Regions from separate parts of the Homo sapiens genome. Here region 2 is linked to region 1. The links come from fine-mapping of genetic effects on gene expression. A gene starts in region 1. The other region holds a variant in brackets. All regions are shown on one strand. Distances are between the middles of the regions.

Evidence for each region.
Region 2: its variant is fine-mapped to the expression of CRYL1 in whole blood (TOPMed, PIP 0.97).

Annotation. Positions count from the first base shown.
Region 1 is chr13:20,521,749-20,530,080 of GRCh38, reverse strand. CRYL1 (crystallin lambda 1) reads left to right here and starts at 4,224. Exons shown (of 8, transcript NM_015974.3): 1 at 4,224-4,327. The coding sequence starts at 4,287. RefSeq lists enhancers at 1,251-1,360, 3,709-3,818 and a silencer at 3,999-4,548.
Region 2 is chr13:20,478,468-20,486,799 of GRCh38, reverse strand. All of the region lies in intron 3 of CRYL1 (crystallin lambda 1), which reads left to right. Among named protein-coding and RNA genes, the nearest start is that of CRYL1, 43 kb to the left of the region's middle. The variant G/T (reference allele first, on the strand shown) is at 3,359.

The DNA of each region.
Region 1 (8,332 bases):
GGCGTGGTGGCTGACACCTGTAAGCCTATCACCTTGGGAGGACGAGGCAGGTGGATCACCTGAGGTCAGGAGTTCGAGAACAGCCTGGCCAACATAGTGAAACCCCATCTCTACTAAAAATACAAACATTAGCCAGGCGTGGTGGGGGGCACCTGTAATCCCAGCTACTTGGGAGGCTGAGGCAGGAGAATTGCTTGAACCTAGGAGGTGGAGGTTGCAGTGAGCCAAGATTGTGCCATTGCACTCCAGCCTGGGTGAGAGTGAGACTCCGTCTCAAAAAAAAAAAAAATTATTATTGAGTTTAAGACTTTTTAATATATTTCCTATACAAGCCCTGTAACATACGTGATTTGAAATATTTTATCCCAAATTGTGGCTTTTCCTTCCATTTTCTTAATATTGTCTTAGAAAATGTCTAAGTTCTTAATTTTGATGAAGTCAAACTAAGCAACCTTTTCTTTTATGTTACGCTTATGATGTCATATCTAATAAATCTTTGCCTAACAGTCACAAAGTTTTCTGTTCTCTTTTGCATGTTTTATAGTTTTTAGGTTTTACATTTAGGTCTATAATGCATTTTGAGGTTTTGTATGTGGTTAAGTGGTAAGAATTAAGGTGTTGATTATTATTATTATTTTTGCTTATGCATATCCAATTGCTCCAGCACCATTTGTTGAAAAGACTATCCTTTTTCTATTGAATTGTCTTTGTACCTTTCTCAGTCAGTTCAGGCTGCTGTAACAGAAGTACCATGAACTGGGTAGCCTATGAACAACCAACATTTATTTCTCACAGTCTGAAGGCTGGAAGTTCAAGATCAGAGTGTCAGCAAGATTGGGCTCTGGTGAAGGCCCTCTTCAAGGTTGCAGGCTGCTGTCTTCTTGTTATATCTTCATATGGTGGAAAGAGGACAAGAGAGCTCTCTGTAGTCCCTTTTAAAAGGGCAGTAATCCCATTCATGAAGGCTCCACCCTCACGACCTAAATACCTCCCAAATGCTCCAGTCCCTAACTACCATCACATTGGGAGTTTCACTTATAGTAAATGCTGAAATCACGTAGAGTTCTTCTAAATGTGTTCTTTTTCAAACTTGTTGTGTTCCTTTCAATAGTAACGGATTTTGTTCTGGAGTACAGTTAAGTTACCTGGAATCTGGGTGGTCCTTGTGAGGCTGGCTTTTGATCTTTCTTAAAATGGTTCCAGAGAAACCTTTAGTCTAGGACTAGCTTAGCTCCACTGCTGAAGCCACATGTTCCTGAGGATTCTATCTGGTGTCCTGTGTATTATGAGGTCTTTTCAGTCTGGCTGTGGGAACACACATCTTTGAGTCCTGCATGAGTCTGGGGGTGGTTGGCTTACTCATTCTGGGACTTCTCACCCCACCCTCTCACAGGTTCCTCTCTCACACGCACAGCTCAGCACTCAGCCAAACATGTGAAGGGCCTCTCTCTTCTACAGGTCCCTGGAGTTCCCTCTTTCCCCTGAGTGTTTGCCTCCTCTCTGCTACCATGCCCTGCAAATTCTCATCATTTGGCTTTTCTGAACTTCAGTCTCCTTTTTCCTTAACTCAGTGAGAAAACCAGGCTCTGAGCTTTCCCTTTCGGAGCTGCAGCCCATGCCTTGTCTATTTCCCTCTCTCAGGGATCGCTGTCCTAGGCTGCCTCTTGTCCAGGGTCTGAAATCCCTGTTTCTTCTATTTTGGGGGCCTTCTAGTTGTTTCAAGAAGGAGTTTAAGTTTCATCCTTATTTTTCCTCTTGGTCAGAAGCAGACATTCTCCGAAAATTCCATAGTCTTTAAAAACATTTCTCATTGATATTCATCATGTTTTCAATATTTTTCTATTAACAACCATGCTGAAATAAAGAAATTTGTCTAACTTCTTGTCCACTTGAATTTCTGTACAACAGATCTCTAGAATTGGAACTGCTAAGCCAAAGGGTACATACATTCTAAATTTTGTGTATGTCAGAAACTGCAAGGGTCTGAGATTTTCACTAAATTGCAACAGAGGTTCTGCACTTGGATGCTGACAGAAGTCACGAGACTCCTGGATTAAAAATAAATTATCTTATTACAGTAAAAGCAATAGCCAGAGTGACACCATATTTATATGGGTTCTTGGATCCTTAATTCCCACAGGGTTACATAGAGGGCCAGATGACTCCTGTGTTTGCAACGAGCAAGGGCCCAGCACTTTTTGCTTTCTTTTTTTTTTTGAGATGATGTCTCGCTCTGTCGCCCAGGCTGGAGTGCAGTGGCGTGATCTTGGTTCACTGCAAGCTCTGCCTCCTGGGTTCACACCATTCTCCTGCCTCAGCCTCCCGAGTAGCTGGGACTACAGGCGCCTGCCACCACGCCTGGCTAATTTTTAGTAGAGACGGAGTTTCACCGTGTTAGCCAGGATGGTCTCGATCTCCTGACCTTGTGATCCGTCCGCCTCGGCCTTCCAAAGTGCTGGGATTACAGGCGTGAGCCACCGCGTCCAGCCACTTTTGCTTTCTTTTGAGACAAAGTCTTGTTCTGTTAGCCAGGCTGGAGTAGAGTGGCAAAATCATAGCTCACTGCAGCCTTGAACTCCAGGGCTCAAGAGATCCTCCTGAGTAGCTGGGACTACAGGAATGCACCACCACACCTGGCTAATTTAAATAAATCTGTATTTTTTTTGTTTGGTACCAGAAGGATTAAAGTTATAAATATATGTACACATAAATAAATAAATATATAAACACACACACACACACACACACACACACATATATATACACACACACTAGAGATGCGGGGGGGGGGGTTCTCACTATCTCGCACAGGCTGGTCTCAAACTCCTGGCTTCAAGCAATCCTCCTGCCTCAGCCTACTGAGTAGCTGAGACTACAGGCGGCACCAGCCTGGATAAGTTTTTTAATTTTTTGGTAGAGACAGGGGTCTCGCTTTGTTGCCCAGGCTGGTCTTGAACTCCTGGCCTCAAGCTATTATTTACTACTCAGCTTCCCAAAGCGCTGGGATTTCAGGCATGACTTTGCAGGGAGCAGCAAACAAGCCAGTCTGCTGCCCCCATAGCCTCCGGTAGTGAGCAGTCACAGGATGCTCACTCCCTGGGTGCCTTGATTATTATATTGGCTGCCTGTGTAACTGACTACAGAAACTGCTCCATCAGAAGATGGAAGCTTTGGAGCCTTGTATTCTCAGCCAGAGCAGGCGCGGTTGCTCAGGCTAGCGGCTGTCTCAACAATGTACTGTAACATTCCCTCCAAAAAGTCCTCAACATTTAAGCTTGCCTTCTACTGTGTGTAAGTTGCATGTCCGAAACACTCCATTACGGATATGGGAATATAATCAATCCATGTGACTTAGCCAATCTGATGAGTGAGAGATGACTTATCTTCCTTGTGTTACTTTTCATTTCTCTTGAGGTTGAATACTTTACAAATATTTATCGATAATTTGTGAAACTGTTCTTTAAAAAACAAAACAAAACAAAAAAACCTAACCCCTCCCCTGAGATTTCTCTTTCCACGTTCCTGACTCAGGGGAAACAAAGGAAGACTTCCTTTTATCATCTCAGTGTTGGCTGCGGTTCCAGCTTGAGTACTGTCTCCTCTGTCTAATGACTGTGTCATTTCCCGTTCAGCTTGTGCTGTGTGGACGCACACCACTGTCAGGCAATGTGTGATGCCCCTTCCTCTTGGTCTGTTCCGGGCTCCAAGAAGGCCAGGAGTCAGGGCACGAGGGCATTTCCTTTTTCTGATACATAAACCGAGTGCAGAGTGTGCTCCGTGGAGGAATTCAGACGTGTCCTTCCGTAGCGCAGATGAACGCATCAGGTGTTCTCTTTCACTGCTGTCGCAGTCCCTGCGCCCAGTTCGCAGTTGGCGGCAGCGGCAGGCGTCTTTCAGAGACGAATTAGCAAAGGGGACATTCTCTGACAGTTTCTCTAGGGTGCTTTAGCGCTAGAGCCCGTGCCAGCCTGCCCGTGTCCCCTCCTATAGACACGGACTTCACGGTGAATGCTGACAGTCACAAGCGCGTGGTCTTCCCGCTTTCCACCCCCCGACGTGCCCCCGCGCTGGTCCTGCCCCTGCCCACGAGGGTCGGCGCGCCGTGTGTCTCCCGGTGTCTCGGGCCCGCGGCGCGCACCCCACTCAGGGACCAAGCGGCCCTCCCCGCCCTCCCGGTCCGCGCGCGCAGCCAATGGGCGCGGGACCCGCCCTCCCCGGAGCCCAGAGCTCGCAGCTCCGCCGGCGCCTGGTCCCAGCGCCCGCGGCGCCGCGTCCCCGGCCCAACCATGGCGTCCTCCGCGGCCGGCTGCGTGGTGATCGTTGGCAGGTAAAGGGCTCCGAGCCGCGCTGCTGCCCCTGGAGCCCGGGGAGACGCCGGGGACGTGGTGCCCTCGCGTGGGGCCCTCGGGGTGGGCGCCGGGTCGCTGTCCCCGCCCCGGCCTCCGGTCCTCCGAAGCCCTGCGCCCTGCGGCCCCTACGGCGCTGGCGGGCTCGGGGAGAGGCGCGGCTGGAGGGGCTTGGCAGGTGGAGGCGCCCCGCGGAGTTGGGTCTGCTTCCCGGGAGCCAGCGTTGCAGGAGGTTCCGAGGTTGACCGCCCAGGCCGCGGGGCCTGCGGTTCCTGGACTCTGTTGAATGTCGCCGCGTCTGCCCGCAGGTCCACATAGAAGTGCCAGGCACCGTGTTGAATGAAACGAATTCTGGCTGCGATCCTGCGACGACTGTGTTCTCATCCCCATTTTACGAATGAGAATACTGAGACTAAGCAGTTTACCTAAGGTCACAGGCGTTTAGTGACGGAGACAGGACTAGCCCAGCAGGGAGGGTGCCAGCGCAGTCCTGTCGGCGACGATGTCGCTGGAGGCCGCAGCAGGTGTTAGGCGAACATACACGCAGTCCTAATTCCTGGGCGAGGCGATGTTTCCAGAGGGGAGGTGGGGGCCGATGGAGCCCAGAGAGTTTGCTAAGTGTGTCCATTTAACAGCTTAAATTCTGCCCAAACTGATTTTTAGTGTGTGCTTCCCCCACCCCGCCCCCCACCCCTACGGTTACAATCCTTGCTATTTTTGTTTTTTAAAAAGGGGCATTTGTATGTACCTTTCTTTGGCCAGCTGTTAGCAGCAATCTATAAACATGTTAATACTTGCTATTGATAGTTAAAAGCACCTTTTTGGTGACTGCTGTTGAGGTGTTGGCCTGCCCCCGACTCCGCCCCCCATCAGTGTACAACCCGGTGTGGAGACCACTTCCAATGTCAGGGTGTTTCCTTCCCACTGAAGGAAGGCATCAGATTCCTTGTTGTCAGCTTTCTTTTCTCCAGAGCAGTGGAGTTAACTGTGCCTTTGTTCTTTCTGGCCCATGAGTGCCCGTGGTTGAATAGTGAAGGCATATTAAAAAGTGCACTTTGGGCCGCGCGCGGTGGCTCACCCCTGTAATCCCAGCACGTTGGGAGGCCGAGGCAGGCGGATCATCTGAGGTCGGGAGTTCGAGACCAGCCTGACCAATATGGAGAAACTCCGTCTCTACTAAAAATACAAAATTAGCCGGGCGTAGTGGCACATGCCTGTAGTCCCAGCTACTCGGGAGGCTGAGGCAGGAGAATCCTTTGAACCCGGGAGGCGGAGGTTGCGGTGAGCCGAGATGGTGCCATTGCACTCCAGTCTGGGCAATAAGAGCGAAACTCCGTCTGAAAAAAAAAAAGTGCACTTTGTACCAGTGGTGGTAGTTACCTCTGTCTTGCATTTTATTAATAGTTACCAGAGTTTATGTGTGTGTGTATATATATACACTCACACATATATATACACACACAGTTTTTACACGCATGCGTGCGCGCACGCGCACACACACACAATTTTAATAGGATAGGGTCTCGCTCTGTCGCCCAGGCTGGAGTGCAGTGGCACTATCATGGTGGATCTCCACCTTCCGGGCTCAAGCCATCCTCCCACAGCAGGCATGTGTCACCATACCCGGCTGATTTTTAAAATTTTTAGGTAGAGATGGGGTCTCACCATCTTGCCCTGGTTGGTCTTGAACTCCTGGGTGCAAGCGCTTTGGCCTCCCAAAGTGTTGGGGTTACAGTTGTGAGCCACCTTGCTTGGCCTTGTATAGGTCCATCATGCCTTGGAGTAGTGTTATGCATGCACCTAATACATGTGAAGTAAAGTTTTAGTTGATTGTGCAGTTATCTGGCTGTGGGTGGCTCAGTCTACTGAGGAGGAGCTTCAGTTAACAGTTTACTTCTGATTCCTTGAGGGATGTTGATAAGGAATTAGAGAAAGGCTTCCAAACTTTAAGGACCACATAATTCTCTGGGGCCTCTGCTTGTTTCTTTGTTTTCTGGTGTGAAAATCTTGTCTTTCCCCCACCCTCAGCACTTCAGCACACACCCAGCTCTGCCTCTGGGACAGTGCTGGTTTCTTCCCTTCCTCTTTACCACCCTTCTTTCTCGTCCCTCTATTTCTTTCCTGGCCCCACAGGTGATTCCAAGGAACACCCACTTAACAAATAGGGCTTGGGGAATGTCAATTAATTTGCCAAAACCTGGTTCAGTTTCATTCTTAGGTTTCAACAGACCAAAATATACATATTTCAATTTCAGGAGCATATTGTGTTTTCAGCTTTCCTTATCAGTTTATAGATTTCATCTTGAAAGTACCTGCTAGGAATACAGTCCCACTTAATTCTTTTCCGCTGATCTTTTTCCAAAGTTCACTCTTCCTTAGGGCCACTTAGCTGTCCTATAAACATCCAGGGCAAGTCCCTTCAGAATGGGGAGGGCTTGAAAGAGGATGAGAGAAACTCTTTTGGGCCTAGGGCTGCAGGAAAATCTGGTAGTGATAACTTTTAAAAATGGGAGTAGAAGTCCAGGCATGGTGGCTCATGCCTGTAATCTCAGCACTTTGGGAGGCCTAGGAGGGCAGATCACCTGAGGTCAGGGGTTCGAGACCAGTCTGGCCAACATGGCGAGATCCCGTCTCTACTAAAAATACAAAAATTAGCCGGGCGTGGTGGTGCATGCCTGTAATCCCAGCTACTCAGGAGGCTGAGTCAGGAGAATCGCTTGAACTCAGGAGGCGGAGGTTTCAGTGAGCCAAGATCACACCACTGCACTCCAGCTGGGGGATAGAGTGAGACTCCATCTCAAAAAAAAAAAAAAAAAAAAAAAAGTAGAAATGGGTATCATGAAGATAAATTTGCATTGGAGTAGTGTTCTAAGGCTTTCATTTTGTTAGCCTTACCTTTATAAAACACTGTGTTTCTAAATCGCTAAAATATGAGTTCTGTATTTGTATACACACTGCAAGATTCAGCTTGTAGCCCTTGAGCTTGTTTAGAATAGGAACACAAAATGTTCCTGGTGCAGGGCATGCCCTTTCTCCTGTCCTGCTTTTTAGGGGGCACACTCTTTCAGGATCAAGCTCAGGGACTGTCTCCTCCAGGAAAAGTTCTGCTTCTGGGCCTTTCCCCTAAGGATAGAAACTGTATTGTTGCCATTTGTATCCACCATGCGTGGTCCCAATAGACAGATAGTTGAGCGTTTGTAACAGAGACTGCTTATTTTTTAACTGATGTGCCCTATGAAGGGCTTGGTAGGACGTTGTTTTATATCAAGAAAAACATCCCATAAACTAGAAAGGCAAGAAAGAAAGGTATCCTATAAACTACAGTCTCCTTCATTTTTTTTAATTCCAAAATTTTGTTTGGGGTGATTGTACTTTTTTTTTTTGAGACGGATTCTTGCTCTGTCAGGCTCAGGCTGAAGTGCAGTGGCACCATCTCAGCTCACTGCAACCTCTGCCTTCTGGATTCAAGCAATTCTCCTGCCTCAGCCTCCCAAGTAGTTGGGACTACAGGCACGAACCACCATTGCTGGCTAATTTTCGTATTTTTAGTAGAGACAGGGTTTCTCCATGTTGCCCAGGCTGGTCTCGAACTCCTGGCCTCAACTGATCCGCCCACCCTAGCCTCCCAAAGTGCTGAGATTACAGGCGTGAGCCACTACACCTGGCCTGTGCATTTTTTATAAGAAACTTTCTGAGGCATGAATTTTCTTTGAAGTGCTATTCTAGGTATTTTCCTGCTAATTTTTGTACACATACACAGCAAACCCTAGGATGCCCTCCTTGCCTTTTGAGTCAGCTTAGACACTAAATGTGCCCTTCGCAGGAGTTACTTAATAGCTCTTTCTGGCAAAATTTCCATAGTAGACTGAGATCATGAGTGTAGGAACAGTTTTACTTCAATTTTTACCCAGTAAATAAGTAACTGTAGCTGGAAAGATACTTTCAAATGTATCTAAAGTGAATTTATTCAAAATTAAGTGACATTA
Region 2 (8,332 bases), 43 kb after region 1:
TGTACATGGTTGGCACTAGTGAAAACTGCTCTTTAACTACAGTCTATCTTTATTTTATAGATTAAATGAGTGTATTTACAAGGCATGACATGTTGAGCCATATCTATTATGTAGAACACAGAGCCAAGCCGGATGAGGAGAGGAAACTAGAGAAAGATGATGTAAACTAGTAGGTTTAATTCCTATGAGAGTTTATATTCTTCAGAAATTGTTGTACCTCCAGTACCAGAGAAAGGAGTGGGTAGGAATAGTTCTGACCGGGAGGCTTCGGGAAGGTTTAATGCAGGTAGGATTAGAGCTTGTCTTGACTTTTGACAAGTGGATTTTGGGGTGGGGGTGGGAGGATTGTGTGGGAGGAAGAGATGAATGAGATGAGAAGTCCCTTTGAGGATGTTTCTAAGGCCACGTTACAGACCCATTGGAAAGGTAGGAAAGGCTGGTCCAAGGTGGAAACCAAGTCGCCATGCTACGAATGCCAACCTGAAGAATTACTTAGGTGAATTGAGTAATACACAGTGCTTAGAGGAGTACACGAAGAGAAGCACCATTTATGTGTTTCTTTAAAGAAATAAAGATGAAGGCTGGGTGTGGTGGCTCACGCCTGTAATCCCAGCACTCTTGGGAGGCTGAGGGTGGCGGATTGCTCGAGCTCAGGAGTTCAAGACCAGCCTGGCCAATATGGTGAGACCTCATCTCTACTGAAAATACAAAAACTTAGCCGGGTGTGGTGGCATGTGCCTGTGGTCCCAACTACTTGGGAGGCTGAGGTGGGAGGATTTCCTGAGTCTGGGAGGTGGAGGTTGCAGTGGGCCGAGATCAGGCCACTGCACTCCAGCCTGGGCAACTGGAGTAAGACTCCATCTCAAAAAACAAACAAACAAACAAAATATTATGAGACCTGAAGAAAAAATAATTATAAAAAAAATAAAGAACTAAAGGGTTTGGATTTCAATCTAAGTCCTGATTAGAATCCTGCAAGGAAGGTATTTAGTAGGAGAATGAAATGAATCAGAAGGAAAGATGAGTAAGAAAAAAGAATCAGCAGTTCATTTTTGCCAGTTAACTGATTTTCTTGGGCATGTTTACACATTTCTTTTCTTTTCTTTTCTTTTCTATCTTTCTTTTTTCTTTGAGATGGAGTCTGGCTCTGTTGTCCAGGCTGGAGTGCAGTGGCGTGATCTCAGCTCCCTGCAACCTCCACCTCCTGGGCTCAAGGGATTCTCATGCCTCAGCCTCCTGAGTAGCTGGGATTACAGGCATGTGCCACCACACATGGCTAATTTTTTGTGTACATTTTTTAATAGAGATGGGGTTTCACCATGTTGGCCCGGCTGCTCTCTAACTCCTGACCTCAAGTGATCCACCTGCCTCCACCTCCCAAAGTCCTGGGATTACAGGCATGAACCATTGCGCCCAGCCTACACATTTCTTTATATGATGTAAAGCAAATTTAATCCTCTGAATTTTAAAACTAGTGCATAGGCTGGGCGTGGTGGTCCACACCTGTAATCCCAGCACTTTGGGAGGCCAATGTGGGCAGACTGCCTGAGCTCAGTAGTTCAAGACCAGCTTGGGCAACATGGTGAAACCCCATCTCTACTAAAAATACAAAACATTAGCCAGGCGTGGTGGTGTATGCCTGTAATTCCAGCTACTTGAGAGGCTGAGGCATGAGAATCACTTGAACCCAGGAGGTAAAGGTTGCAGTGAGCCGAGATGGAGCCACTGCACTCCAGCCTGGGCGACAGAGTGAGACCTTGTCTCAACAACAACAACAACAACAACAAAACCTAGTGCATATTAGTGTCTCAGGTTTACCAAACAAACAAGTAAATGAAACCCCCAGAGTGAAACCTACCTAATGCTGCCCCACATGTTTGTTAAAGTACATTAGTGTTTCTAACACAATGTAATGTTAAACATGTATCTTACCTAATTAAACATCTCTGTGTTGTAAAGAAAGTTTAGGACAATCCTGTTTAGGTTCATTATTCCAAAAATACTGAAGATTTTTGTGTATTTATATGTTTCCACTTCTCCTGTTTATTTTCTCTCTTTCTAATACATTTGAGATTATACTGTAAATAGAATTTTGCATCATGGTTTTTATTTAAAACTTAGAACATTTCCTGCTGTACGATGTGCTCGGGGCTGTATCAGAGAGAAGTGGCACAATCTTGGCTCACTGCAACCTCTGCCTCCTGGGTTCAAGCGATTATCGTGCCTCAGCCTCCCAATTAGCTGGGATTACATGCATCTGCCACTACACCCAGCTGATTTTTGTATTTTTAGTAGAAACAGGGTTTCACTATGTTGGCCAGGCTGGTCTCGAACTCCTGACCTCAAGTGAGACATATAATTTTTAGACTTAAAAAATTGTGATAGTCACCATTTGATGGCAAACCTGAAAGAAGCTTCCGTCTAAGAATTCCATTAAAGCTGAGGTTCCCAAAGTCCGCAGCCTCTGCCGGGCTGCAACCACTCATCTGCTGGCAACCACTCACCCGCCCTGTGGTGCTGCCTCATCTCAGGGTCCACAGACTTTTTGCCAGTGGCACCCTCTTAGCAGCTCTCACAGCTCCTTTTTCTGATTTATACAAGGGAAGGTTCTCAGTGTAGAAAAATCAATCTAGGCTACTTGGAGACAGTTTTCTTTTTTTAAAAAAAATTAATTGCTGTATTTTGGCCAGGCGCGGTGGCTCACGCCTGTAATCCCAGCACTTTGGGAGGCCAAGGCGGGCAGATCACGATGTCAGGAGATGGAGACCATCCTGGCTAACACGGTGAAATGCTGTCTCTACTAAAAATACAAAAAATTAGCCAGGTGTGGTGGTGGGCACCTGTAGTCCCAGCTACCCGGGAGGCTGAGGCAGGGGAATCACTTGAACCTGCGAGGTGGAGGTTGCAGTGAGCCAAGATCGCGCCACTGCACTCCAGCCTGGCGACAGAGCGAGAAGAGGGCTGGATGTGGTGGCTCATGCCTGCGATCCCAGAACATGGGGAGGCCACAGCGGGTGGATTACTTGAGCTCAGGAGTTCGAGACCAACCTGAGCAACATGGTGAAACCCCGTCTCTACCAAAAATACAAAAAATTAGCATGGCATGGTGGTGCATGCCTGTGGTCCCAGCTGCTTGGGAGGCTGAGGTGGGAGGATCACTTGAGCCCAGGAGGTGGAGGTTGCAGTAAGCTGAGATCCCGCCACTGTACTCCAGCCTGGGTGATAGAGTGAGACCCTGTCTCAAAAACAAACAGACAAACCAAAATAAAAGAAAGACTGTACAGAGCTCTTTTAGAATGATGATGTGGTACGTTACAGTCCAAGTGAGAAAGCTGACTTCATGTTGATGATATGGTCA[G/T]TCCAGATGGCGTGAACCCAGGAGGCGGAGCTTGCAGTGAGCCGAGATCGCACCACTGCCCTCCAGCCTGCGCGACAGAGTGAGACTCCGTCTTAAAAAAATAATAATAAATAAAAAATTACTTGCTGTATCTTAATTGTACATATTTGGGATTCATGTGTGATTGATTTGTGTGTTCAGTGTGTCATGGTAAAATCCCGGTGTATTAGGATATCCAGAACCTCACACGTTTATCTTTTATTGTGTTGGGAACACTATAAATCTTCTATTTTGAAATATATAACATTATTAACTCTAATTTCCCTACTGTATTATTGAATGCTAGACCTTGCTCCTTCTAGCGAACTGTATTTTGTACTCATTAACCAGCTTCTCTTCATCGCTCCTTCCCCTTCCTGGTAACTGCCGGCTGCGGGTGTCCACCATTCTACTCTCTACCTCCATGAGACCCACTGCTTTAGCTCCCCTACATGAGTGAGAACATGGGATCTTCGCCTTTCTGTGCCTGGCTTACTTCGCTTAATATAATGATCTCCAATGCCATCTATGTTGCTACAGTTTTCTTATAAAATATGTTGCTGTGGTTTTCTTATAAAAAGAAAATTATTACTATTTAGGGAATTGTTCACAAGCAGGAGGCAGAGTTTGAGGAGACGCGTGTGTGCGTGCGCACACACACGCGCGCACACACACACACACACAGACTGCTTGCCACAATGCTTCAACTAAAAATAATCCCACTGTCGGATCTGCCCAGCCCCAGGGGGCGAAGCCCAGTAATGGGAGTGTGGTTTTCCCCAGTGGATTGTTTTCTACCCAACCCTAGAGGGCGGGGAGCCTGGGTCAGGACGTTTCCTAATACTCTGCTGAAATCCGGGAGCACGCAAGAAAGAAACCTGAATTTCTAGAACTTAGTGCAATTTTGAAATCAAATCTTGCCTGGCAAGAAAACCTACTGTTCTGGAAAAATAAGTTTACTCTGAAAAGCTGGTCTCAAGCCTTGACTTTTAAAGCACATTAAAGCTCATTAGCCACTATGTCGAGGCCTTATCTAATCTCTGGAACTTAAAACCGGAGATCACAGTAGCTGGTGGGAGCCATGGGAATGATTTATAGAGTTACGAAGTTTAAATGGGGTTTCCTTACACAAAGTCAGAACAATCTGCAATAGCTGAAATCGAGAAGTTAAATGGATATTGTCTATGTAGATGATCAGAATTTGCATCTCAACTATATCTTTAAAATGGAGAGAATGCTAATCATTTTGAAAAGGACCTTCAGACACTGTCAGTAATTACAGGAAGTAGCGTTCTTTTGGAAATTTATTTGTTTTCTTAAAGGATTGTTGGACTTTCAGTCTTGGTTCACTGAGACTCAGAATATTTCTTCTTTTGGTAGAGATGGGTGTGGGGGTGGGGGGTTCAGGCAGCATTGGACACATGGGATGGCCAGCCCTGAGAATATTCGGGAATGTGCGAGGAAACTGGAGTTACACTTTTTCTGTTGTATGTGTTTTTTCTTTTTCCTTTCGAGATGGAGTCGCACCTTTGTCACCCAGGCTGGAGTGCAGTGGTGCGATCTTGATTCACTGCAACCTCTGCTTCCCGGGTTAAAGCAATTCTCCTACCTCAGCCTCCCAAGTAGCTGGGATTATAGGCGCCCACCACCATGCCGGGCTAAGTTTTGTATTTTTAGTAGAGACGGGGTTTCATCATGTTGGCCAGGCTGGTCTTGAACTCCTGACCTCAGGTGATCTGCCCGCTTCGGCCTCCCAAAGTGCTGGAATTACAGGAGTGAGCCACCACGCATGGCCATACGTGTTTTTTTCTTTAAAAACTGTAAAATCAGGTTTACAAAGATATAATTTCCATACAAGAAAATTCACTCGTTTCAGGGTTCAGTGCTATGTGTCTGACAGATGCGTACAGTCACGTATGAAATCAGCGTCACAGCTGGGGTTCAGAGCATAGAGCCTCTCCTTCCCTTTGCAGCTAATTTCCTCCCACCGTTCCCCAGGCCTTGCCCACCACTGATCTGTTCTTTGTCCCTATAGTTTTGCCTTCTCCAGAATGTTATGTAAAATGGAATCATACATGATGCAGCCTTTTGAGTTTGGTTTCTTTCACAGAGTAAAATGAATTTGACGTGGCTTGTGTGGTTGTGTTGATTGGTAATTTGTTGCTGAGTGGTATGACATTACTAAGGTGCGTGGGACTCTGGATGGACTGGGGCAAGCCCACCTCACACACTCACGAGATCATCTGGAAGCACGAGCCTTCAGTTTTCACTTGCGAAGTGTGAAAACATTCTGTCCTAATGTTCTACTAGCTTCCTGCCACAGCCCTTACTTTTCTGATGGCTTGCTCTTGCTTTATTCAAATAGTGTGCTTACAGAACTGGGCACGAGGTCTTATTTCTGTGAAGCTGTATTTTTATTTATTTGCTTGGCTTTTTTTTTGTAGTATGTATAGCTTCAAAGATATAATATGAGCAAGTAATGAAAAATGTTATACATTCAAGAGACAGGCAAGTTTTTCTCTTAATCTGTAATTATGTATTTATCTTCTTCTGTGACCAAATAGGACTTGAAAAAATGCTAAGTCAAAACATAAGAAGGACAGTAAAATAAAGTCTTAGAAGAGGAGGGCATCCTCATTGCATTCAGTGTGCCTGCAGGTGAGGACTAAACATGGCCAGCATTGTGGGTCCCCGCAGCATCCACGAACGGCAGGTTATTGGCATGATTTGCGCTGGCAGGCCCTGCAGTGATGGACGAGGCAGTGACCTGCCTGTGTCTCAGACATCGTGGGACCTGCAGGAGCATTAGGAAAGTACTCCACCATGATTTGTTCTCTTTGGCCTCTACCTTGTGGGGTGGAGTATGAAGTTATGTGTGCTGGAGCAGAATGTTAGAAGGCAACAGGCTTTGATCTTTGCCAGGAAGCCTGGCTCAAGGTCAGCGTTAGCCTGAATTTCTACTTTACCTTTCAGTTTGGGCATTTTGGCTTTTCCCCCTTCACAACCACCTGCCAATGGAAGACGGTAATTTTTTTTTTTTTGAGACAGAGTTTCATTCTTGTCACCCAGGCTGGATTGTTGGCTCACTGATCTTGGCTTACTGCAACCTCTGCCTCCTGGGTTCAAGTGATTCTCCTGCCTCAGCCTCCCAAGTAGCTAGGATTACAGGTGCCCACTGCTACACCCGGATAATTTTTATATTTTTAGTAGAGACAGGGTTTCACCATGCTGGCCAAGCTGGTCTCAAACTCACCTCAGGTCCGCCTGCCTTGGCCTCCCAAAGTGCTGGGATTATAGACATGAGCCACCATGCCTGGCCGTGCATTTTTTCAAAGAAGTAAATGTTTCTTCTTCATAATGTCTTTAAGTCTGGAAGGCTGGGATCTAGCTGTGTTGCGATTTTGACTTAGGTGTTAGGGAGTGGATGGGGAGGTCACCTGGTGTGTTCTTGCAGCAGTGTAGGAAAATGTAGTTCTTGGTAACAGCTTGGTCCATGACTTCTTGATGAACTGTGTGCCGTGGGAGAGCGCAGGGGCAGCCCCAGCATCCCTGTCTCAACACTGACATACTCAATGCTCTGTCCCCAGGGCTGGGCCAGCCAGTTTTCCTTCCAGGGTTCTTTAGGACAGAAACCCTCCCTTTAAAAAATATTATCTATAAATATTAACAAAGTTTGCATGCTACAAAGAGGAAGACATGCCTAATTCAATTCCTCTAATACCCATTTGTGACATTTTAATATATTTACCTCCAGCCTTTTTTCCACATATAATATTTATAATTGTAATGATAGTGTGTCTTTATAGATACAGTGTCATATTCTACTTATATTAATCAACATTTAACACTTTCTAGTGGCTGTGTAAGAGTCTGTCAAGTGGATGTATCAACTAAGTCAAATATCACCTAGAAAATAATGATCTTATGGCTACTTCCAGTACTGTGCGATTGTAAGTTAAACTTGGTTGATCATCCCTCTATCTCATTCTTCCATGCTTTTTGTGACTTTCTTCAGGGCAAGTTCATTCATAGGGAATTACTAGATGTAAGCCCCTTTCCAGCTCTTGATAACATTTTGCTGAGTGGCATTGTAAAAATTGCCAGTACACCTTCAGGAGTCATGTGTTAGCACAGTTGGATTTCAAGCTTGCCAGTGTTGGGTCTGCTGATCTTTAAAGTGATTATTAAAGTGTTACTTGAAAACATTGTCCCAGTTTGCAACAACCAATGTGGCATCATCCCAACATCCACATTCTTAATTTGGTTCCTAAAATAGTTTTAACCCTAAATTTCCTCTAAACTTAAACGGAATCTCAAATCCCTATTTAAAAGAAAGATGGCCAGGCGCGGTGGCTCACACCTGTAATCCTTTACAGGTGTAAAGGGAGGCCTTACAGACTTGGGGAGGCCGAGGTCGGGGGATCATCAGGTCAGGAGATTGAGACCATCCTGGCCAACATGGTGAAACCCCGTCTCTACTAAAATACAAAAAAAAAAAAAAATTAGCTGGGCTTGGTGTGGCGCATGCCTGTAGTCCCAGCTACCTGGGAGGCTGAGGCAGGGGAATCACTTGAACCTGGGAGGCGGAGGTTGCAGCAAGCCAAGATCGCGCCACTGCACTCCAGCCTGGCAACAGAGCGAGAAGAGGGCTGGATGTGGTGGCTCATGCCTGTGATCCCAGAACATGGGGAGGCCACAGCGGGTAGATTGCTTGAGCTCAGGAGTTCGAGACCAGCCTGAGCAACATGGTGAAACACCGTCTCTACCAAAAATACAAAAAATTAGTATGGCATGGTGGTGCATGCCTGTGATCCCAGCTGCTTGGGAGGCTGAGGTGGGAGGATCACTTGAGCCCAGGAGGTGGAGGTTGCAGTAAGCTGAGATTCTGCCACTGTACTCCAGCCTGGGTGATAGAGTAAGACCCTGTTTCAAAAACAAACAAACAAACCCAAATAA